Homo sapiens: one gene and its partners. The protein of the gene in region 1 purifies or fractionates together with the protein of each later gene. This does not show direct contact. Each region holds a gene or a part of one and is shown in the gene's direction. Other genes may lie near its edges.

Region 1 (7,919 bases):
AATAAATAATTTGTCTAAAAGTAAAGTAGTTTGCAACATTTCTTCCTGTTCCTCACCTTACTCATATCCCCAAAAAAGTACTGATTTATCATTGACATTACTGAGTTTTTTTTGTTTTGTCAGATAACTGGAAGAGGTTGATTAAATACTCTTTAATACTAGGAAAGGATAATTTCTTGCTAACCCTCATGTAAACTGGATGACTGCAATTATTTTCGTAGTCGGTGGTTTTAAAAGTATATGCTGGTATCACTGTTTTGATTTTATTTCCTGAAAAAATTAATTGCCTTGAAACATATTTATTCCATGCGATACACTGAAGCCTCTCTTAACACTTTCAATCACAGCCTCTACACTCTGTCAAGTTGAACCTGTGGGAAGATGGTTTGAAGCTTTTGTTAAGAGGAGAAACAGAAATGCTTCTGCCTCTTTTCAGGAACTGGAGGATAAGAAAGAGTTATCCGAGGAATCAGAAGATGAAGAATTGCAGTTGGAAGAGTTTCCCATGCTGAAAACACTTGATCCCAAAGACTGGAAGGTATTTAATATCTGAATATTTTGTTCAGTCAGATGCTTTGTTAGACATAGACAATTTTCTTATGAGTTTTCCATTAATAAACATGTTTTAAGATGATTCAGCAAGATAACTATGATTTAGCATCTGTTTATTACTAAGTCTTGAGAGCATTAGCACTAGCCATGAGATACTGTCTCTGCTGGAGAAATCCAGGAAGAGTTCACAGAAAAGATAATGTTTGCACCGGTCTTAAAAGGACAGGCAGCAATTAGTGAAGCAGAGAAGTGAGAAAAGTATTCTGGGCAGAAGGAGTAAGATATACAAAGACACAAAGGAGTAAAAGAATATGTAGTGCCTCTTGAGGAATTGATAAGTCGTATAGGGTACATGCGGTATGGTGATGAGAAATCTAGTGTCTTTAAAAGGACACTAGACCAAACTCTGTTGTGTCCTTTTTATACCATGCTAAAGAAGGAATTAAAATTTATTTTTGGGACAGTAAGATACCATCAAAAGTTTCTTAGCTAATTTTAGAAAAGTAATTCCCTTGGCAGTACAGGAAATTGCTTGAAAGGGGGCAAGGGACTGGAGGGGAAGTGAATAGTTTACTGTTATAGGGCTAGTGCACTAAGGCAGACCTGTGACTGAATCCTTGAACTTACTATGTGGCTGGGTTTTGAGGAAGAGGGGTCAGATTTGCCTTTTTTGGAGGTAGCATTAACAGGCTTTGGTGACCCTGGCTGTGTGGCACAAGACAAAGAGAAGTATTCAGAGGTCCTTCCCAGCATTAGCGCTTGAGTGACCTGCTAGAGTGTGTGGTCAGTAACCAATGCTGGGATGAGGATAAGAATGTTTGTGGGAGGTGCTGTTTGTGTCCAAGTTTGACTATGTGAAGACTGAGGTTTTGGTACCATAGTGGTGAAGCTGTCTAGTAGATGGTTAGAAATTGGTCTATGACTCCAAAAAGAGGTTACAGCCAAAGACTTTTTGAAGTCATTGGCACATAGTGGTGGTTGCTGTGAGGAATTGAATGACAACAGCAAGGGACAAAAGTATAAACAAATAGATAATGCTTTAGTAGGTACTTGTATAATAGTTAAATGCGTATGCTGTGGAATTGGAGTGCCTGAATTCAAATCTGGTTCTGCCATTTGGTGCACTTCGACCTTGGGAAAGTTCCCAGATATGTGTGTACCTCATTTCCCTTGTTGCTACAGTGAGATTGTTAACAGCTCAAAGGTTTACCTTGAGGATTAATAAAAGGATGCTTATAAAGCACTTAAGTTAGTACTTGCTGCATGATAAATGCCAAACAAATAATGGATAATAAGAGTTCCTATGTCATTGGTTGTTTAGAGGACTAAATAAGCTAAAGCATATGTATAAAACATTTAGAAAAGTAAGCACTCAGAAAGTGTTAGCTGATTCTCCCACCACCTCATCCATTTTAAAAGAAAAAGACAACATTGGGGAGCATGGATATTTAAGGGGTAGGAAGAGGAGGAAAAACAGCAGAAGATACTAAGAAGGGTGACAGAAGTAGAAAGAAAACAAAGAAAAAGACACTTTGTTATTTGAAGAAATACTTCCTAAACATCAGGCAGCGTATTCTTCCAGAAACTAAGGGAGGAGCAAGAGGGAAAAAGAGGCAGGGTGCAGTGGCTCATGCCTGTAATCCCAGCACTTTGGGAGGCTGAGGCGGGCAGATCACCCGAGGTCAGGAGTTCGAGACCAGCCTGACCAACATGGTGAAACCCCATCTCTACTAAAAATACAAAATTAGCCAGGCGTGGTGGCACATGCCTGTAATCGCAGCTACTTGGGAGGCTGAGGCAGGAGAATCACTTCAACTCAGGAGGTGGAGGTTGCTGTGAGCCGAGATCATACAATTGCACTCCAGCCTGGGCAACAAGAGCAAAACTCTATCTCAAAAAAAGGGGCGTGGGAAGAGTCACCTGTGTCACTGCTTCAGAAAGAGGTCAATCACATAACATGAAAAATTATTTTAAAAAACACTGGACCGGGCATGGTGGCACATGCTTATAATCCCAGCTACTCAGGAGGCTGAAACAGGAGAATCGCTTGAACCTGGGAGGTGGAGATTGCGGTAAGCTGAGATCGTGCCACTGCACTCCAGCCTGGGCAACAAGAGTGAAACTCCATCTCAAAAAAAAAAAAAACCATTGGATTTGGCAAACTAAAAGTTTCGGTGTCCTCATTGAAAGCAGTTTGAGTAAAATGATCGGGAAGGCAAGAGATTACAGTGAATGAAGAGTGATTAGGAAGTGATGAAGTAGGATCAAAGTGTAAAGTACTCTTTCAAAGCTGGGTAGTAAAGAAAATGAGAGAAGATAGTAACTTCAGGAGAAGGCAGAGTCGGGAAAAGACAGAACTGGGGAGTGTTGAGATCTATAAGAGGGAGAAGGTCTTTGGTATAGAAAGAAGTAGATTGTATCAGAGTAAGGTAGCAGAGTTCATTCACTTGTTCAGTTTATTTTCATTCATCAAATATGGATCAAACACCATGTCAGATACTGTTCTAGGTGTCAAGGATACTGTACTGAACAAGACAGTATTACTGCTTACACACAGCTTATATTCCAGTGACATAATAAGTAAACAAGAACATGTAGCCATAAGTTCCATAGGATGGCCATAAGCTATCAACAGGTGCTAAGAGAAAAAAGGGGTCTTTGGTCAAGTAAGTTTGGAAAATGCTAGGTTTTACAGGTTTCTGTTTGTTTATTTTTTAAATCTAATTACAGGACTTCTCAGAGCCTTTCTTAGGCCTTTGTGCATACAAATCATCAAGGAGGCTGTATAATAGTCCACATTTACCTCTTTTTTAAATTTATTTTTTATTTTATTTTATTTTGAGACGGAGTCTCACTCTGTTGCCCAGGCTGGAGTGCAGTGGCGCAGTCTTGGCCCACTGCAACCTCCGCCTCCCAGGTTCAAGCAATTATCTTGCCTCAGCCTCCCGAGTAGCTGGGATTACAGGTGGGCGCCACCACGCCCGGCTAATTTTTGTATTTTTAGTAGAGACAGGGTTTCACCATGTTAGCCAGGCTGGTCTCAAACTCCTGACCTCATGATCCACCCACCTCAGCCTCCCAAAGCACTGGGATTACAGGCGTAAGCTGGCATGCCCAGCCTGTCTCTTCTTTTTTTTAAAGACAGGGTCTTGGCCGGGTGCAGTGGCTCACACCTGTAATCCCTTGGCCCTTTGGGAGGCCAAGGCAGGTATATCACCTGAGGTCAGGAGTTCGAGACCAGCCTGACCAACAAGGTGAAACCCTGTCTCTACTAAAAATACACAAATTAGCCAGGCGTGGTGGTGTGCACCTGTAATCCCAGCAACTTGGAAGGCTGAGGCAGGAGAATTGCTTGAACCCGGGAGGCGGAGGTTGCAGTGAGCCAAGATGGCACCACTGCACTCCAGCCTGGGCAACAGAGCAAGACTCCGTCTCAAAAAAATAAAATAAAATCTTAAAATCATTAAAAAAAAAAAAAAAAAGACAGGGTCTTGCTCTGTCGCCTATCCTGGAGTGCAGTGGCATGATCACAGCTCACTGCAGCCTCTACTTACTAGACTCAAGTAATCCTGCTACTTCTGCCTCCTGAGTAGCTGGAACTACAGGTGCACACCACCACACCCAGCTAATTTTTAAAAATTTTTTTGTAGAGACAGAGATCTTACTTTGTTGCCCAGGCTGGCCTCATATTCCTGGGCTCAAGCAATCCTCCACCTGGGCCTCCCAAAGTGCTAGGATTACAGGCATGAACCATGGCACCCAGCCTAATCCACATTTCTCAACCTTACCTGACCATAGACCCTGGTTTATACAGAACCTCTTACTGGACTCCTGATGAAATGTCACTTTGGGAAATGCTTATTAAGGTACCAGAACACAAGGGATGGAATATATTGGCTTCATTTCAAATTTGACTCCCTTTTGTGTTTTTTTTCCAGAACCAAGATCATTATGCAGTTCTTGGACTTGGCCATGTGAGATACAAGGCTACACAGAGACAGATCAAAGCAGCTCGTAAGTACTTAGTTATTTTGAAATAATCAAATATCTTGTATAGGAACAGGCTGGCTATGCTTTTTAAAAGATATACAGTATCATAGTCTGCAGCCATAACTACATTTAACAGCATGTGTTATATTGTCATAACAAGCAAAAAACCACGGTCTCCCCTGCCTTCAGAATCAGAAGAAAGCAATCCATTTTACATATAGACTTTCCCATTAGGGATAAGAAATTAGGATGGGTGTGTGTGTGTGGATACAAAATACTCCTCCAATGGCAAGCTTTTAAAAAATAATACTTCACCTCTCTTTAGAAGTATAGCAGCTGCACTTAGTGGATACTGCCTTTTTATTGTTTTTTGGTTTTTGGTTTTTTTTTTACGTTATTTTGTAATCTTAGGTCACACCTTTGTAGATATCACCCTGTCTTCTGTCCAAGAAAAGTTGTCTGATGTTTTATTGTTGTTTTCATTGACAAGGTTATAATTTGGCATGGGAGAGGGTAATGTTGGGACCCCAGTCTTCATATGCCTTATAAAACACCATCCCTTAATGCTCCTAAATGTCCTATGCTTTGCAATCCTGTGGACATAATTTCTTATACACGTGATCAGTTCAACTGATTAATAAAGTTTAGTGAAAGAGGTAAGAGGTGAAGGTGATCAGTTTTCTATCTTAGGAGAATGTTCTGCCCTCCACTCTAGAGAATGGATATTGAGGTCAGAGAGGGTAAGATTGTGGCCACATGGAAAAGGAGCAGGGAGTCAGGGCCTGTCAAGAAGAGGAAGTATTATATGTGGAGGAAGATGACTGAATAAGAATGCCTGTGGTAAAAATTATTAGTCAATACTTAGCATAGTAGATGAACTCAAAATCGTCCCCATTACTGCTTACATTTAGGAAAATCACAGGAAATATTTTTTAACAAAGTGAAGGAATTTATCAGATTATTTTAAACTGGATTTGTTTAAAGGCTGGCATGAGTCTAGACAAAGCATATGGTAATGCATGTGAATAGTTATTCCAGTATAAATAAATGCCAGAAAAGTCCATTTGCCACGTACAAGTGTTTGCAAAGTTTTACTATACGAAAGAATAGCATTGGCCGGGCGTGGTGGCTCACGCCTATAATCCCAACACTTTGGGAGGCCGAGACGGGTTGATCACCTGAGGTGAGGAATATGAGACCAGCCTGGCCAACGTGGAGAAACACCGTCTCTACTAAAAATACAAAAAAATTAGCTGGGTGTGGTGGTGGGCACCTGTATTCCCAGCTACTTGGGAGGCTGAGGCAGGAGAATTGCTTGAACCCAGGAGGCAGAGGTTGCAGTGAGCCGAGGTCGCACCATTGCGCTCCAGCCTGGGCAACAAGAGCGACACTCTGTTTCCGAAAAAATAGAATAGCATACAAATACCAAATATGTCTTAGTACAGATAAATTTGTTAATTAGAATTGATAATAGAACTGTGAGAATAGTTTGTGTTTTAAGGTGAAAGAATTCTTTCTCAGAAGATTAAAAATGTGCAATAAATTGTAAAAGAAGCATTCATATGCTTCTGTTAAATCCACTGTCTTTTTTTGAGACAGAATTTCGTACTTGTTGCGCAGGCTGGAGTGCAATGGCACCATCTTGGCTCACCACAACCTCCGCCTCCCAGGTTCAAGCGATTCTCCTGCCTCAGCCTCTTGAGTAGCTGGGATTAGAGGCATGTGCCACCACGCCCGGCTAATTTTGTATTTTTCATAGAGACGGGATTTCACCATGTTGGTCAGGCTGGTCTCGAACTCCCGACCTCAGGTGATCCACCCACATCGGCCTCCCAGAATGCTGGGATTACAGGCGTGAGCCACCGCACCCAGCCTAAATCCACTCTTTTTATTGGCCTTGTAGAAATTGATTTTTAGCCAGGCACAGTGGGTCACACCTGTAATCCCAACACTTTGGAAGACCAAGGCAGGCAGATTACTTGAGGCTGGAGTTCAATACTAGCCCGGCCAATGTGGTGAAACCCCATCTCTACTAAAAATACAAAAATTAGCCAGGTGCGGTGGCGCATGCCTGTAAGCCCAACTACTTGGGAGGCTGAGGCATGAGAATCGCTTGAACCTGGGAGGCGGAAGTTGCAGTGAGCGAAGATTGTACCACTGCAGTCCAACCTGAGCAACAGAGTGAGAGAGTGAGACTCTGTCTCATTAAAAAAAAAAAAAAGAAAGAAAGAAAGAAAAGAAATTCAGCTTTTGAATATGTATTCTCTAGCCAAAAATTTTGCAGCACCAGTGTAGAGATTGTTAACAATAAGGGTAATTCTAACTTACTCTCTACCACCCTTGTGGAATATTCCGTCAGTCTTTATTTAGAAAGAAACTGTCATTCTCTCACCTCTGTCACTGTAAAACACAGTTGCTACTCATTGCTTTCTGAAAATCTATCTAAAAGTTAAAATGCAAAGTTACTGTTTGCAAATCTATAATTATTAGCACAAACCTAATAAAAATGTAAATCTGGTACCATTTGATGTCCTTTGAATGCTTGCTTCATATTACAAGCAAAGTTTTATTTTTGTTGAGTATATTTTGAATGTCAGTAATGAAAATTAATTAAGTGTGAAGTAGGAGCCGGGTGCGGTGGCTCACACTTGTAATCCTAGCACTTTGGGAGGCTGGGGCAGGTGGATCACCTGAGGTCAGGAGTTCGAGACCAGCCTGGCCAACATGGCGAAACCCCGTCTCTACTAAAAATATAAAAATTAGGCGGGCATGGAGACGCATGCCTGTAATCCCAGCTACTTGGGCGGCTGCGGCACGAGAACCGCTTGAAACTGGGAGGCAGAGGTTGCAGCCAGCCGAGATTGCACCATTGCACTCCAGCCTGGGTGACAGAGGGAAACTGCCTCAAAAAATGCCCAAAAAAATACCAAAAATATTTGTCACTGTTTCTGAACCCTTGCAGTATATGTTGAAATAAATAATTTTATTATGCTCATGAAAAGATTTCTATAGGCCAAGCATGGTGGCTCATCCCTGTTAATCCTAGCACTGTGGGAGACTAAGGCTGGAGGATCACTTGAGCTCAGGAGTTCAAGACCAACCTGGACAACATAGCAAGACCTTGTCTCTCTTTTTTTTTTTTAATTAAAAAAATTTTTTTTCAAGATTTCTTTTCTTTTTTTTTTTAAGACGGAGTCTAACTGTTATCCAGGGTGGAGTGCAGTCGCGTGATCTTGGCTCACTGCAACCTCCATCTCCAGGGTTCAAGTGGTTCTCCTGCCTCATTCTTCTGCCTCAGCCTCCTAAGTAGCTGGGATTACAGGCACCTGCCAACATGTCTGACTAATTTTCGTATTTTTTAGTAGAGACTGGGTTTC
Region 2 (7,033 bases), on another chromosome or scaffold:
CTATGTGAATGGTGTGTGAGCATGTGAGTAGGAGGGTAAATTGTGTGTGAGTAGGTGATGTGTACGTGTGTCAACTGTAAGTGTAAATGGTGTGAGTGTGTGTGAGCATGACTGAGTAGGTATCAGTGTGAGTGTGAAGTGTGGGTGTGAATGGTGAGCATGTGTGAGGGTAAATATGTGTGAGTAGGTGTCTGTGGGTGTGAACTGTGGCTGTGAATGGTGAGCGTGTGTGAAGGTAAATCTGAGTGTGAGTGAGTAGGTGTCTGTGTGTGTGAACTGTAGGTGTGAATGGTGAGTGTGTGTCTGGAAGCCCAGAATCAGACTGTCGAGCTGGATCATTCAGACTCCATACATCCAGCCCCTTTATACAAACTGGGAGACTGAGGCTGGGCAGTGGTGGTGGGGAAGGGATCACACCCAGCGTTTGAAGGACAGCCCGGGTCAGAGCCCAGCCAGGAGCTCCTGACCCCCATCCTCCCATCCGCTGCTGCTGCAGGTGTGTCTGTGTCGGGAGCGCACTGTGTCCACCCCGCCTTGGTACAGCTAGGAGCATGACCTCCCCCACCCTGCACTTAGCTCACAGCCCACAACTCAACGGACATACTAGATGGCAGGGGCTGTGAGCCAGGCAGGGAGGGTGCTCTGGTAGGAGCCCTAGGGAGGGGTCTAGGGAGGCCGGCCAGGGAAGGAGCCAGCCATGGGGCCACCCCAGCAAGTCCCAGGTCCTGAGAACCCTCTGGGTATGTGTGGGCAGCAAAAAAGGCTATGAGGCTGAGTGCTCAGCTGGGGAGCTGCGGTCAGAGCCTTGGTAGGGGCCAGTGGCAAAGGCATTGGGAGACTTTACCCTACGTCTGGTGAGAAGCCATTAGAGACCTTCTGGCAGAGCCAGGACCCACCACTCAGACTTCTGTGTTGGGGCTGTGCGGACAGAACAGGAGGCTGGGTGGAAAGGGTAGAGAGGGTGGGGGCTCGGCAGCTGTGGGACCAGTTCTGGGGTAGATGGGGAGGAAGCCATGGGTTGGAAGAGAGTAGGGAAATCAGGGAGCAGTCCCTGTCTCTGGGCAGAATCACTGGCAAAAGTTTGGGAGGAGCAGGGTCTGTGTTGGCCACACCCAGGCTCCAGGTGAGGGTGGCAAGAGGAGCGGGATGCTGGGGTCTGCACGGGAGAGAGGCTGACCTCGGGCTAGGGAAATGAACTGCATCATCAGGGTACTGGTGGTGTTTGCAGCCCCAGGACTGAACAATCCCCTAGATAAGGAGGAGAGAGAGAGCCCAGCAGCCACAGAGCCCCTTCCAGATTCCGACCCCAGAAACCCCACTGCTCACAAGCCAGAGCCTCCTCCAGACTGGCCAGGCCCAGGGAAGGGCGCGACTCAGGTGCTGGGCACATGGTCTTGCCCTGGTCTCTGCTAGGCCCTGGCCACTTCCAGAAGCTCCTTTTCTCATATTTGGCCATTTTTTTTGGTTGAGGACCTGGGACCTTCCCCACCTACAGTTTCCTTGGTGGGGTAATGCAGAAGGGATGACCAGCAGTGTGGGGGTAAGAGGCACCCTGAAGGCTGCAAGACCCCAGCCTGAGTCCTGGTCTCCTGGCTAACCCCCTCCTCAAGCCTCAGTTGCCTCTACCATATCATGAGGGCAAGTGGAAGATCCCACTTAGTCTATGCCAGCTCCCAAAGTCTAGAATTAGTCTTCTGAGCCCTGCGCCACAGGCAGCCTCCCTCTTGACAAAAGCCCCGCTCCCCTCACAGGCTGAGGAGCCGGCCCCCAGCCCGTGTGCCCACCAAGGCTGGTGTGGGGTCTGAGCTGCATCCTCCGTGTCCTCCCCCCGGGACTGGACAGCACTGCCCTGCCCACAGGGCTCCAGCCCTGTGTTGACTGCTTCTCCCCTGCAGTCCCAGCCAGGTCCCCCGGGGCACCGTGGCTGCGAGCCTGGCCGCTCTCCTCAGTGCCCGGACTGCGGCTCTACTTTGTGAGTGGCTGTACTGGCTGCGGTGCCCAGCCCTCCTCTCTCGAATCTCCTCTCCTCAGATGTCATGAAGGAGGCCACACCTGGGTCCCGCCTTCCTCCGTGACCCTGTCCCTTTGTCTCCACTAGAGCATCCCCTTCCTCCAGCACAGATGACCCAGGAGTGTCCCTGGCCCAGCCTGTGGCTGCAGCCAGCTCCAGAGTGGCATGTCCAGCATGCCACTCCTCCCCCCTGCGGTGGCTGCACAAAAGGCCAAGCGATGGCCCTGTTGCCCATGGCTGGGACTCCTTCAGGGGTATCGCTTCTGCTCACCCTTTAACTTTTCAAAAGACCCAAGCTCAAGCCCCTTGTATTAGTCCATTCTCACAAAGCTATAAAGAACTACCTGAGACTGGGTAATTTACAAAGATAAGAGGTTTAATTGGCTCACGGTTCCGCAGCTGTACAGGAAGCACAGGGCATCAACTTCTTGGGAGGCCTCAGGGAGCTTTTACTCATGGCAAAAGGTGAAGTGGAGCAGGTGTCCTACATGGCAGGGGCGGGACCAAGAGAGGGAGTCAGGGGAGGTGCAACACGCTTTCAAACAACCAGATCTCATGATAGCTCACCATCATGAGGACATCACCGAGGGAATGGTGCTAAACCATTAGAATCCACTCCCATGATCTGATCACCTCCCACCAGGACCCACCTCCAACACTGAGGATTAAAACTGAACCTAAAATTTGGGTGGGAACACAGATCCAAATCATATCACCTGCTCTGGGTCATGGCCGGGCTGCCTCCCCTCCACCTGGTTCCAGGGCCGGCTCTTTTGGGTTTCCTGCTCCCATCCCATCTCTGTACACTGCGGTCACTCCAGCTGTGGCCACCATGTTCCTCTCCCCAGAGTCCCCTCTGCACATCCTCAGAAGGCTCCTGGTCCTGAGCACCCTGATCAGTGGGCCCAGCACACACAGCTGGCTGTTCCTCTCACGTCCTCCATGCAGCCAGCCTGGCCTGGAAACAGCTGTGCAGTTTCGGCAGGCTCAGCTGGGTGGTGCTTTCAGAAACCCATCCCCGTTCTCTGTCAGGAAATTCACATGGTCCTTCTTCAAGAAGGTGGAGGCCTCAGGCCCTCAACGTTGTCCTGTGCCCTGGAGACAGTCCACTCAGCCAGTCCTTCCTGGGAAAGGAGCCCATCCTCCTCTGCAGGGACCTGGGCTGCAATCTCTCTTCTCACTTTTCTCAGGGTACCTGGTGCTCTGGGGGGCGAAGGCTGTTTCCTGGCTCCATGCCCCTGCCAGCCTCCCCCCTAAAAAACCCATCCAGGCTCACCGTTTCCTCCTAGACATAATTTCTTCCTCTCTGGGGTTTATTCCCTTGACAGGGTGACAAAATGGGGGGCGTGTGTGTGTGTGAAAGGGGTGAGCTGGAGAAGAGGGGAGGTGCTGCTAGCCCTCACCCAGAGAAGCCTGCTTGGGCCCAAGGCCACAAATGCACCAACCCACCCCCTTTTCAGGGCCTTTTACTCTGTCCACCTGTAAATGTTCCTGTCTCTCACTCTGGGAACCCCAATTCGCCAGCGTCCTGTCCCCCCTCACCCCTCCATCGCTTTTCTATGCTGGGCCTCTGGAGACTGTCTCCTGCCTGCAACCCTGCCACCCCCCAGCCCCAGCCCCACTCCTGTGCCCTACATCACCTACCCCCAAAGGGATCCCCTCTCCTACCCGAGCATCTTACCCTGGCCTCAGCTTCCCCAAGTGGAGGCTGCAACGGCTTCAACAAAAACTGTCCTGTGCCTTCTCTGCACCCCCAATACTGGAATCAGCAGAGATCGGGCCGCCAGCCTTGCACAAGCCCCCCCGGGGAGGGTGGGGCCCGGGACCCTCTCCAGGACATGGTCTCCTTTGCTGTGTTCCCGCCATCATTTCCCTGTGCACGGGAGAGGGGGAGGGGTGCACCCAGGAACTAAGAGCGAATCCCTTCCCCATCCTCTCACAGGAATTCCTCTGGGTGTCACAGCCTCACCCCCGCCCACCCTGTCCCACCCTGGAGCCCCCATTTGGCTTTGGGGGGACCGGCGGCAGCTACTTGTGGATTACAAAATGAGGCCCTGGGAACATCAGCGGCAACAGGGTGGGGGGAGCGGCGAGGCAGTGTCCCTAGAGAGGTCCTGCCGTAGTCCTCCATTCCCCGGGTTGTGCCTAGGCTCCCAGAGGCACAACCAGAACCCGGGGTGCAGCTGGAGAGTGCCTCCCATCCGCCATCCCCTTTGGATGGGGCGGAAAACCCCCGAGGATGTCCTAGCGCAGTTCACGTTGCCCCAGCCGACCACGTGAGGGCGCGCCCTGTGTTAGTTTGGACAAATTAAAGCTCCTCTTGCGGGCAGGCCTGGAGCCCCCCGGGCCGGGACAAGGCTCGGGTGCCCGTGGCGTTCTCTGGGTTGCCGGCCGCCAAGCTCCCGGCCGTGGGGCCTCCTCTGGGGCCCGCGCTATTGGCCTCCAAACGAGGTGCCCCCCTCCTCTCGCGCTCCCGCAGCCTAGGGTGCACCTCTCCGTTCGCCTTTGCTGAGCCCTTCCAGGACGCAAGTCGCCTCTCCACTGCGCCGGGAGCTCAGGCCCTGTCCGGGGCGCCCCGCTGCGGGCGCGGCGGCGCTGGAGAGGCGCGGTCCGAGAAGCCAGCGGCCGGAGAAGGGGCTCCAAGAAGCACAAGTTGGCGCTGGCCCCGGACCAGGCTGTTGTTGTTCTCAACGTGGTCCGCCATGAAGCTATAAAAAGCCGAGAGAAGCGCCCTCCCGCCAGAGCGCAGCGCGCACGCCCAGCGAGTTCCAGAGGCGCCAGTGGAAGCTGCGGCGGCGGTGTCTCGCGTTCGGCGGGATTTCTCTTCGCTCCGGCTCGGCCTAGGTCTACGTCCCCAGCTCCAGCCGCCGGCTCGGACTCGGTCTCTGACCCCCAACTCGGTCCCCTAGTCCGGCCCCGGCTCCGGGCCCCCCAACCCTCGCTCCGGCCCGGCCCGGCCCCCACCCCAGCCCTGCCGCCCGGCCCCAGGCCCGGCCGCGGCCGCTCCCGCCTGGAGCCGCCGCGCGCCCCCAGCCCCCCTGCACCCCCTCGGCCCCTCGCCTTCCTCTTCCCGGCGCGGCCCCCCGGCTTCCGCGCGCCGCCCGCCACCAATCCTCTTGCTACCATGTCCGTGGAGCTCGAGGAGGCCCTGCCAGTGACGACCGCCGAGGGAATGGCCAAGAAGGTGACCAAGGCTGGCGGCTCGGCGGCGTTGTCCCCATCTAAGAAGAGGAAGAATAGCAAGAAGAAGAACCAGCCGGGCAAGTACAGCCAGCTGGTGGTGGAGACCATCCGTAGGCTGGGCGAGCGCAACGGCTCGTCGCTGGCCAAGATCTACACCGAGGCCAAGAAGGTTCCGTGGTTCGACCAGCAGAATGGGCGCACCTACCTCAAGTACTCGATCAAGGCGCTGGTGCAGAACGACACGCTTCTGCAGGTGAAGGGCACCGGCGCCAACGGTTCCTTCAAGCTCAACCGCAAGAAGCTGGAGGGCGGCGGGGAGCGGCGCGGAGCCCCGGCGGCCGCCACCGCCCCGGCCCCCACCGCGCACAAAGCGAAGAAGGCAGCCCCGGGCGCGGCCGGCTCCCGGCGCGCGGACAAGAAGCCCGCCAGGGGCCAGAAGCCGGAGCAGCGCTCGCACAAGAAGGGCGCTGGCGCCAAGAAGGACAAAGGCGGCAAGGCCAAGAAGACGGCGGCCGCCGGGGGCAAGAAGGTGAAGAAGGCGGCCAAGCCCAGCGTCCCCAAAGTGCCCAAGGGCCGCAAGTGAGCGTGTCGGCCGGTCAGAGCGGCCGGCGTGGGCTTTTCGGTGTTTTTGTTTTTCTACCCCAAGTGACGTAGATTTTGTACGGCTCACGCCGGCCGGGGCCGCGAGGCCTGGTCTGAGCCTCAGGGAGGGGCCCCGGGTCCTCTCAGTCTTTCCCCTCCCCCAACGATGTAGCGTTTTTCGTTGTTTGCTTTAGGTTTTTGAAACAGCCCCGGCGACGCCTCTATTGGCTCTCGGCCTTGGCAACGGCCGTCGTCATGGTTACTGGCCCCTAGGCGCCGATGGCCGAGGCCGCGCCTGCCCACCGGGCGGGGTCGCTGGTTGGCCGGGCCCAGGCGCGCGGGGACGCGGAGGCCGCGCATCCTTTCCCAGCTCCCCACCCTCCTTGCCTTTGGGTGCGCGACAAACAATCGCTCCGGGCTCAGGGCTGCGCGGCTCTTCCCTTCATTCCATGGGCCTTTTTTTGGGCACAATAAAGCGTTTAAACCTTTCAGCCTCTCTCGTTTAATCTGAGTGGAATAGGGATGGGCGCCTTCGGCACGCGGGGTTGGATGGCGGGCCCCTCGGGTCCTTATACCCCAGATCTGTTGGCCAGGGTAGGCCTGGAGCCAGGGGCCTTCAGCAAGGGGTGGGAATTGCTGGCTTGGGACGAACTTAAAGTACCTGGGACAGGGAGATAGACAGGATCGGTCCCTTAGGAGGGATGGATCTATCTGCCCCCACAGGGGGTCCATCGGCCATTGCGGGGAGCGGGATGGGGGAGGGGAGAGGAGGGGGGATTAATGGGTTTTCAGAGTTAATGGTCAGGGACCTAAACTTGGCCTCCAGAGAGGTAGTTCTTACAAAGTCACACCAGACTGGCCTGTAAACTTAGTCATTCTGACTCCAGCGAGGGTTAGAGTGAGATGTGACCAGGACGAAGTGTGGTGGCCAGAGAGTGGAGTTCCTGACCACAATCCAACGTGTGGTCTCAGAAGGGTATTTGCTGTCTCTGAGCCTATTGGTTAAGCTAGAGTGCAAACGGGACCCAAAGGATTGCTGGGAAAATTAGTAGGAGCAGAAGGATCTCCAGCCCTGGGACATTCTGGTATCCAGCATGTGGGATAGTTGTCTGTCCAGTTGGGCAATAGGTCAAGGTCTATTCTAACAGATGTCCCTAAAAATGGACAACTGCAAAACAGGCCCCCAAGGGCAGTGGAAACAGGGAAGCTTCTGAAACAGTGGATATATACTCATACCAGCGTGAGTGACTGGAGTTA
Region 3 (7,919 bases), on another chromosome or scaffold:
AGGAAGGTTAACCTGATTGTGTTCTGTGATTTTGATAACACATTGTGACATAATACTTGACATACTTTAGACAGATATTTAATGTTTATGTTTTATGAATTAATTTTGTACATTCTCTTGCCCATTTGAAGAACTTGAGAATTGACAGCAGAATGTCATTGAGAGTGTAGACCAGGGATTTTCTAAAAAAGAATGAATGCCTTGAAACTAGTGCAGTTAGTGAGCTTGCAAGTTATAGATAAGTATATCAAAAGAAGCTTGCATTTTTAAATGTCAGTCTTTTTCATTAGGTAGGTTTAATACGTTTTTAAGATTCTGTAAACTTGATATTGGGTGGGGACGCCAACTATTGTTCACTTGGGTGTGTTTGGCTTGGATATTATTGCAAGGACTGGTTCCATAACTCCACCCCAGTGCACTTTATTACTGATGACATTTATTTAAATACCTTGGTGTAAGGTCTAATATTTGTAGTCTATCTTGAGTATTTACAGGGAATGAACTTCAAAATTCTATTGAAGAGATTGATAGTTACTGTTTGGCTCCAGTTAACAGGCAGCAGAACAACTGGGTGTGTCTTGATGGTGTTCTACTTTCTTAGAAAGAACCAAAGTGAAGCAGCTTAAAATCTTGTAAAACCAATTCCTCAGCTGCTTTATGACTTTGTCAGAAATTGGGAATTAGAGCATACCAACAATCTTAAAGTCATTAATTTAACCATCAATCTGTTGATCCTTATGGGCACCAATAATTTAAATTGGTTGCCTTTGTGGGGTTTCAGACATTACAGGAAAAAAGTAGTAAAGGGGGAAATTAGTAAATGCTTCAGCTATCACTTAGTGTCACAAGTTTTCTTATTTCTTACATGTTGCTTAAAAGCGGTCTTAACGTGTGTGTATTTGGTTTTTAAAGATTCTTTGAAAATAAAGATAGTTGTTAGGGCAAATTTTTTAGAGGACTCTCTCCATGCATAATAAGTAACTGTTTCCTAACTTGGAAGTACTTAGGGATGTGGGAGTGTGTACAAACATATATACACTTACATGCTATAAAATTTTAAACTTTAATAGGGGAAGATGGCCCTTTTTGTGTGCCTGTAGCTAAGAAGACCAAAAGATGACACTTTTTCTGGTTAAATGGCTGTTTTAAACTGAAGTGATGTTCTCTAATAATCCTAAATGCCATATTTTCCTTTCAGATTTGTAATTTTATAGAATTATGAGTCTTAATTGCATTTTTTTTTCAGATTAGATAGAATAACATAGTGCGGCCCTCACTTTTGTGAGGGGCCATATCTAGTGAGTGTGTTGATTTGCTTGGTTATTTATGAATGGCTGCTGGTATTTTCTTTGGTATTTTAAAAGCCAAAATGTATTGCTTGCCTAAAATTTTTTAAATTTAAAAGTTTTTATTAAGAGACTATCTTGGAAAGTGACGGGAATAATGGTTGCCCAAATGATTTCCAAGTCAGTTATAGAAAATGCTTTTGAGGGGGAGAACTTGGCAAACTTAAATAGAAGTTTAAAATAAGTTTATTGTTTTTATTTTATTTATTTATGTATTTAGTCGGTGGTATGGATTGGAAGGTTTATTGTCTTTAAATGGCAGTTTTCCTAAGGTACTTTGTTACACATTAGAGTTGCCCAGTGTTTGCTTTTTTCCAACAGGAAATGGTAGTGGATTGGAAGAGAAGCAGCTTTTGACAGTCCAGGCCTAAAGTTTTTGGATTGCAAAAATAATTTGCTTATGCAGGTTATCTTATCGTTTTAGGAATAAGACGAGTTGGAAGAAGACCTGATCAACAACTTCAGGGTGAAGGGAAAATAATTGATAGAAGACCAGAAAGGCGACCACCTCGTGAACGAAGATTCGAAAAGCCACTTGAAGAAAAGGGTGAAGGAGGCGAATTTTCAGTTGATAGGTAAGTTGTTTCTTGTTTTTGAGCCAGGGTCTTGGTCTAACATGTAGGCTGGAGTGCAGTGGTACAAGCTTGGCTCACTGCAGCCTCTGCTTCCTGGGCTCAAATGATCCTCTCATCTCAGTCTCCTCTTGAGTAGCTCGGACTACAAGGTCACGCCACCACACTGCTAATTTTTTTTGTAGAGCTGAGGTCTCACTATATATATTGCATTGGCTGGTCTTGAGCTCCTGTGCTCAAGCTGTCCTCCTGCAATATTGGGATTACAGGCGTAAACCAAAGAAGTCTTCATATTTTGTTACTTTATAGAGTCACATTTTAATGTTAAGCTATAAATTGGGCATAATTGCCAGGTAGCAGTCTGGCTAATTGTTTCTATTAATTTTTCACAGAAACATCTGTATGTGTGCATTGTTAAGCTTTAGATCTTTGGGTAACAGTTCAAACTTAGGTCTCTTGTAATGGAAACACTTTGTTGAATTGATAACCAATTTCTTTTTCTTTCTCTCTCCAGATACAGAGTTAAAAGGAAAATACTGTTAGTTGAAGGAAAATACTGTTGGTTTATTGTTTATAGCAAATAAATTACTTATGCAAGTTAGATGTGTTTAATTTTTAAGTGTATTGGTAAATAGTGATGGACTGGATTATATGTGCAATGAATAGCAGTGGAAAAGTATATGCACTGGTAGTAATGCTTTAGAGTGCTAAAATAGTTTTCTTGTTTTGGGAGGCTGTCTTGTTCTGGTTTCCTTTGTGTTTAGAAACAGACTATTTTGAATTTTCTGAAGTGTATGTATTTAACTATTGGTTTTTGAGCCAGTAAACATGTTCTGTATTTTTGATCTTTTGGATGAATTTTCCTCATTTCTTCTGGAAACCATGGAAGTATAATTTATTTGTTTATATTATAGACCGATTATTGACCGACCTATTCGAGGTCGTGGTGGTCTTGGAAGAGGTCGAGGGGGCCGTGGACGTGGAATGGGCCGAGGAGATGGATTTGATTCTCGTGGCAAACGTGAATTTGATAGGCATAGTGGAAGTGATAGATCGTAAGTCTTACTGGTTTTTATTTTACTTTAATATTTTAATCTATTTAATAAACAAACTTTGAATTTCTAGAACTAAAGAGTATTATGTTAACTCAGTTTTGTTAGTTCTTTTTCACATTACAGTGGCCTGAAGCACGAGGACAAACGTGGAGGTAGCGGATCTCACAACTGGGGAACTGTCAAAGACGAATTAACGTTGGTATTCTGATTTTCTTAAAAATTCTATACCTAACTAGAGGTTAATCCATACCTCTGTCAAATTTTACTTGTCTCTGAGATAAGAATGAATGCTCTCTTCTGAGAGTTACTATATTACAAGATAATGTCTTATGGGATGGGTTTGGGTTATAGTATATTGAATGACCGGTTTTTTAATATTTCGATATATTTGTTACTCATTTTTTCCCCCCCATATGTATTTGTAGCTTTTCCTGAAACCCCACAATAAGGTTATTTGGGTATTCTGATTATCTTAGTGTCCTTAATAGTTCCTATTCTAGCTTTTGACTTTGTTGTCATTACAAAATTTGATAAGCTAGTAAAGCTTCATTTTATAATTAACTGCCTTGTTCTGTTACTTTTTAAGTATGAAGTATATGAACTAACTAGTTTATATTGTTTACTTTTCGACGTCTTCTGGGGAGTATATTTAGTAAGAAAGGAGTTAGAGAATGTGAGAGCTTATGGTATTTTTGTATGAAGAACTTTTCAGCTACATGTAAATGGACCTAGATGCCTTTCTTTTTCTTTCTTTCCTTAGAGAGTCCCCCAAATACATTCAGAAACAAATATCTTATAATTACAGTGACTTGGATCAATCAAATGTGACTGAGGAAACACCTGAAGGTGAAGAACATCATCCAGTGGCAGACACTGAAAATAAGTAAGTGGTATTGCGTGTAATAGTAATGACCCAGAATTGAAAGCACTGGAGTTTTACCAATAAGATAACCCATAGATTTAATGCTGTTACTTGATGGCTTTTTGTTTTTGACAAGGGAGACTTACTGTACCCTCATCCCTCAAAGAGTATTTGAAAGAATGCTTTTTTTTTCTTTTTTTAATAGAGACAGGGTCTCACTATATTGCCTAGGCAGGTCTCCAATTCCTGGGCTCAAGCGTTCCTCCTGCCTTGGCCTCCCAAAGTGCTGGGATTACAGGCATGAGCCACTGCACCCAGCCCTTAAAAGAGTGGTTTATGTGTATATATTTGACTCTAACGCTTTGAAAAATAGAATATTTTAATGTGGTTATTTCTGTTTGATTAGTCATTTTACCATTGTCATACAACTGTACAAATTTTACTTTGAGATAGTTAAAACTAGAAAATGTGGCCATTTTAACATTAGTTCTATCTTGAAGTTATTTCCAATGTAGAATTTGGAACATAGCATTACTGGCCTGTTTTTAAATGTATGAAGAGAGCAAAGATCAGAGTATGTTATTCACTATCTTTTTTTTTTTTTTTCTTTTTTTGAGACAAGATTTCATTCTGTTGCCGAGGCTGGAGTGCAGTGGAGTGATCTTGGCTCACTGCACCCTCCGCCTCCTGGGCTCAAATGATCCTTCCACGTCAGCCTCCTAAGTAGCTGGGACTATAGGTGCCTGCCACCAGGCCCGGCTAATTTTTGTATTTTTAGTAGAGACAGGGTTTCACCATTTTGCCCAGGCTGGTCTTCAACTCCTGAGCTCAGGCAAGCCACCCACCTTGGCCTCCCAAAGTGCTGGGATTACAGGCGTGAGCCACCTTGCCCAGCCCTTCACTAACTTTTTTTTTTGTGTGTGTGAGATGGAGTTCACTCTTGTTGCTTAGGCTGGAGTGTAGTGGCACTGTCGGCTCACTGCAACCTCCGCCTCCCGGGTTCACGCGATTCTCCTGCCTCAGCCTCTGGAGTAGCTGGGATTACAGGCACCCGCCACCATGCCTGGCTAATTTTTTATATTTTTTAGACCAGCTGGCCAGGCTGGTCTCGAACTCCTGACCTCGGTGATCCACCCTCCTTGGCCTCCCAAAGTGCTGGGATTACAGGTGTGAGCCACCACACCCAGCCCTTCACTAGCTTTTAAAATTACATGGTGTTTTGTTTTGTTTTGTTTTGTTTTGTTTTGTTTTGTTTTGTTTGGAGACATTCTCGCTCTGTTGCCCAGGCTGAAGTAACAGTGGCGCTATCTTGGCTCACTGCAACCTCCGCCCCCTGGGTTCAAACGATTCTCCTGCCTCACCCTCCCGAGTAACTGGGATTACAGGCATGCATCACCACGCCCAGCTAATTTTTTGTATTTTTAGTAGAGACAGGATTTCACCATGTTGGCCAGGCTGGTCTCGAACTCCTGACCTCAGGTGATGCATCCGCCTTGGCCTTCCAAAGTGCTGGGATTACGGGCATGAGCCACCACGCCTGACCTAAAATCATGTTTACTTTGCCAGTTATTTGTTACAGTATTGTGGTTTAAAGTCTTGGATTACAGGTTATTTAGGACAGTGATTCCTAACCAGAAGCATATTCAAGTTAGTTGGGGGGTGGGAGGGGCAGATGTTTTCTAAACTTTTTCTTTTTTCTTTTTTTTTTTTGAGATGGAGTTTTGCTCTTGTTGCCTGTGCTGGAGTGCAATGGCGTGATCTCGGCTCACTGCAACCTCTGCCTCCAGGGTTCAAGCAATTCTCCTGCCTCAGCTCCTGAGTAGCTGGGATTACAGGCATGTGCCACCACGCCCGGCTAATTTTGTATTTTTAGTAGAGATGGGTTTCTCCATGTTGGTCAGGCTGATCTCGAACTCTGACCTCAGGTGATCTGCCCTCCTTGGCCTCCCAAAGTGCTGGGATTACAGGCGTGAGCTGCCGCACCTTAAACTTTTTCTTTTCTTCAGAAAGAATTTGCTCTTATGGTGAGCACTGTTAATGATGGGAATATCATATTCCGTGGATTTGTTGGGATAAGGAAAAATGATATACTATTGGAGGGAGTAGATAAAAATACATGGTATTGGGTGATGTTTTGAACTTGGTAATAAAAATTTATGCAAAACTATAATGGAATCATAATTTTGCATGATAAACAATGAAGTTGTGATTGGTGCCTTAACAAATGAACCCTATGCAACGTTAAGTTTCTCATAGTGGTCAACACAACTTTTTTTTGTTTCTTTGAGACACAGTCTCCTGTCTCCCATGCTAGAGTGCAGTGGCGCGATTTTGGCCATTCTGAAGTTCAAGCGATTCTCCTGCCTCAGCCTCCCGAGTACTGGGACTACAGGCATGCTCCACCATGCCTGGCTAATTTTTGTATTTTCAGTAGAGACATGGTTACACCATGTTGGCCAGGCTGGTCTTGAACTCCTGGCCTCAAGTGATCCTCCCGCCTTGGCCTCCCAAAATGCTGGGATTACAGGTGTGAGCCACCGTGTCCAACCACAACTGTTTAATAGAGCCCATGTTCAATCACTCAGTGATATGCAAAGATTATAACTGTTTACCAAAAGGTACTAATGTATTGATAGGCTATTGGTAGCAAATCCTTAGCTCAGTGCCCAGGAGCGAAACTGAGGGTGTTTGGTTTAAAGAAAATAATTATCCATCACATTAGAACTGTCTGTAATCTTATTCCAGACTAGGGGAGAATCTGGGCATAGCATATGGAAGTATAAATTTAAGAAACACAACATTGGCTGACTTTGATGAACTAACTTATATATAGCTTCCAGAGCTTCTGTTTGGTTTTTATTTAATCCTTGCAGTAATTCCTGAAAGGTAGGTGTCATGCCTCCATGATATGATAAAAGGTATGCTAAGTTCTATTCCTGGCTGTGTCATAACATATGGGTAAGCAGGACTTTTTTTATATTCTTAGATTTCTCATCTGTAAAATGACTAGGTGGACTCAGTACCCAAGATCCCAAGATCCTGTCAATTCAATATAAACTTGCTCTAGGAAGTTTTTTGTTTTTTTTTTGCAGCATAGATGTAACTGGAGGAACTTTTAAGATAGCATTTGTCAAACAGTAAAGGGCAGCATCCAGGGAGATATTTGAGCTCTAAGGCTAACTGAATCACCTGCTATCTTTGGAAAGAAGCAGGGCTCCCCAAATAGCAAATGACTTGTTTGGTGACAATTGCAGATTGAGATTATACTAAAATAATGGATCCTTAGGCCTGTGCTTTGTTTCTGTAAAAAGAGGAAAGGATCATATTCTATAGTTAAGACCTGAGAATTATATTTGGAAATAAATGGTTTAGTATTAAATAATGAAACCAGTGTGTGTTTGTGGATAGTTCTATTAGTAGTGAATCCATGGCCTCCTTTCCATATACAGGTTGGTTTGAAAATTGGAGTATAAGGATTTTAGGATTTGTAGAAACACGGCTATTGTTTTGATTTGCTCTAAGTGCTAGTTGCTGAAACAAAGCATAGAGGAACAGTTCTTTTATATTCCAAAATTTGAACCCTGGTTGCTGACAGACATCCTAGAGGATTACCTTCTTGTATGTTATTAAGAGTTACATATTGTGGGAATTATGGAAATTAAAAATGTGGTTTAGGAGAAGATAGGCTGAGGATTTTACATAAGAGGGTAGTTTTTAAACAAGGTAGTGTTTTTAAGAAATGTGTATTTTAGTATTCGTAAAGCCAGTTCTAGATTGTATTACTGATAAATGATCATTTAAGAGTTCATAAGTATGAATTCCATATTCCTTACTTGTCTCTAATTAGCAAACACTGAATTCCTGGTCTCTACCAAGTTGCTTAGTTACATAGGAAACTAGGGTACCCTCATCCTTGAATAATCTTTCTCTAAAAGATTACAAGGTTAATTTTCTCAATTAAAATCATAAATTTAAAATACTTTTATGTAATATCAGCTCTCTACCAGGTATAAAACTTGAAAACCTTTTCACAGGGAGAATGAAGTTGAAGAGGTAAAAGAGGAGGGTCCAAAAGAGATGACTT

What was found.
Region 2: the proteins of DNAJC2 (region 1) and H1-10 purify together in Homo sapiens (affinity purification with mass spectrometry; 2 studies listed by BioGRID and IntAct, with this or other methods). This does not show direct contact.
Region 3: the proteins of DNAJC2 (region 1) and SERBP1 purify together in Homo sapiens (affinity purification with mass spectrometry; 2 studies listed by BioGRID and IntAct, with this or other methods). This does not show direct contact.

Annotation. Positions count from the first base shown.
Region 1 is NC_000007.14:103,334,383-103,342,301, reverse strand, and holds part of DNAJC2 (dnaJ homolog subfamily C member 2), read left to right. Parts: intron 1-347; coding exon 348-538; intron 539-4,490; coding exon 4,491-4,566; intron 4,567-7,919. UniProt on the Homo sapiens protein: Acts both as a chaperone in the cytosol and as a chromatin regulator in the nucleus.
Region 2 is NC_000003.12:129,314,005-129,321,037, reverse strand, and holds H1-10 (histone H1.10), read left to right. Parts: upstream 1-4,751; 5' UTR 4,752-5,135; coding exon 5,136-5,777; 3' UTR 5,778-6,267; downstream 6,268-7,033.
Region 3 is NC_000001.11:67,420,137-67,428,055, reverse strand, and holds part of SERBP1 (SERPINE1 mRNA-binding protein 1), read left to right. Parts: intron 1-1,770; coding exon 1,771-1,921; intron 1,922-2,832; coding exon 2,833-2,973; intron 2,974-3,078; coding exon 3,079-3,168; intron 3,169-3,733; coding exon of another isoform or gene 3,734-3,778; coding exon 3,779-3,856; intron 3,857-7,869; coding exon 7,870-7,919. UniProt on the Homo sapiens protein: Ribosome-binding protein that promotes ribosome hibernation, a process during which ribosomes are stabilized in an inactive state and preserved from proteasomal degradation.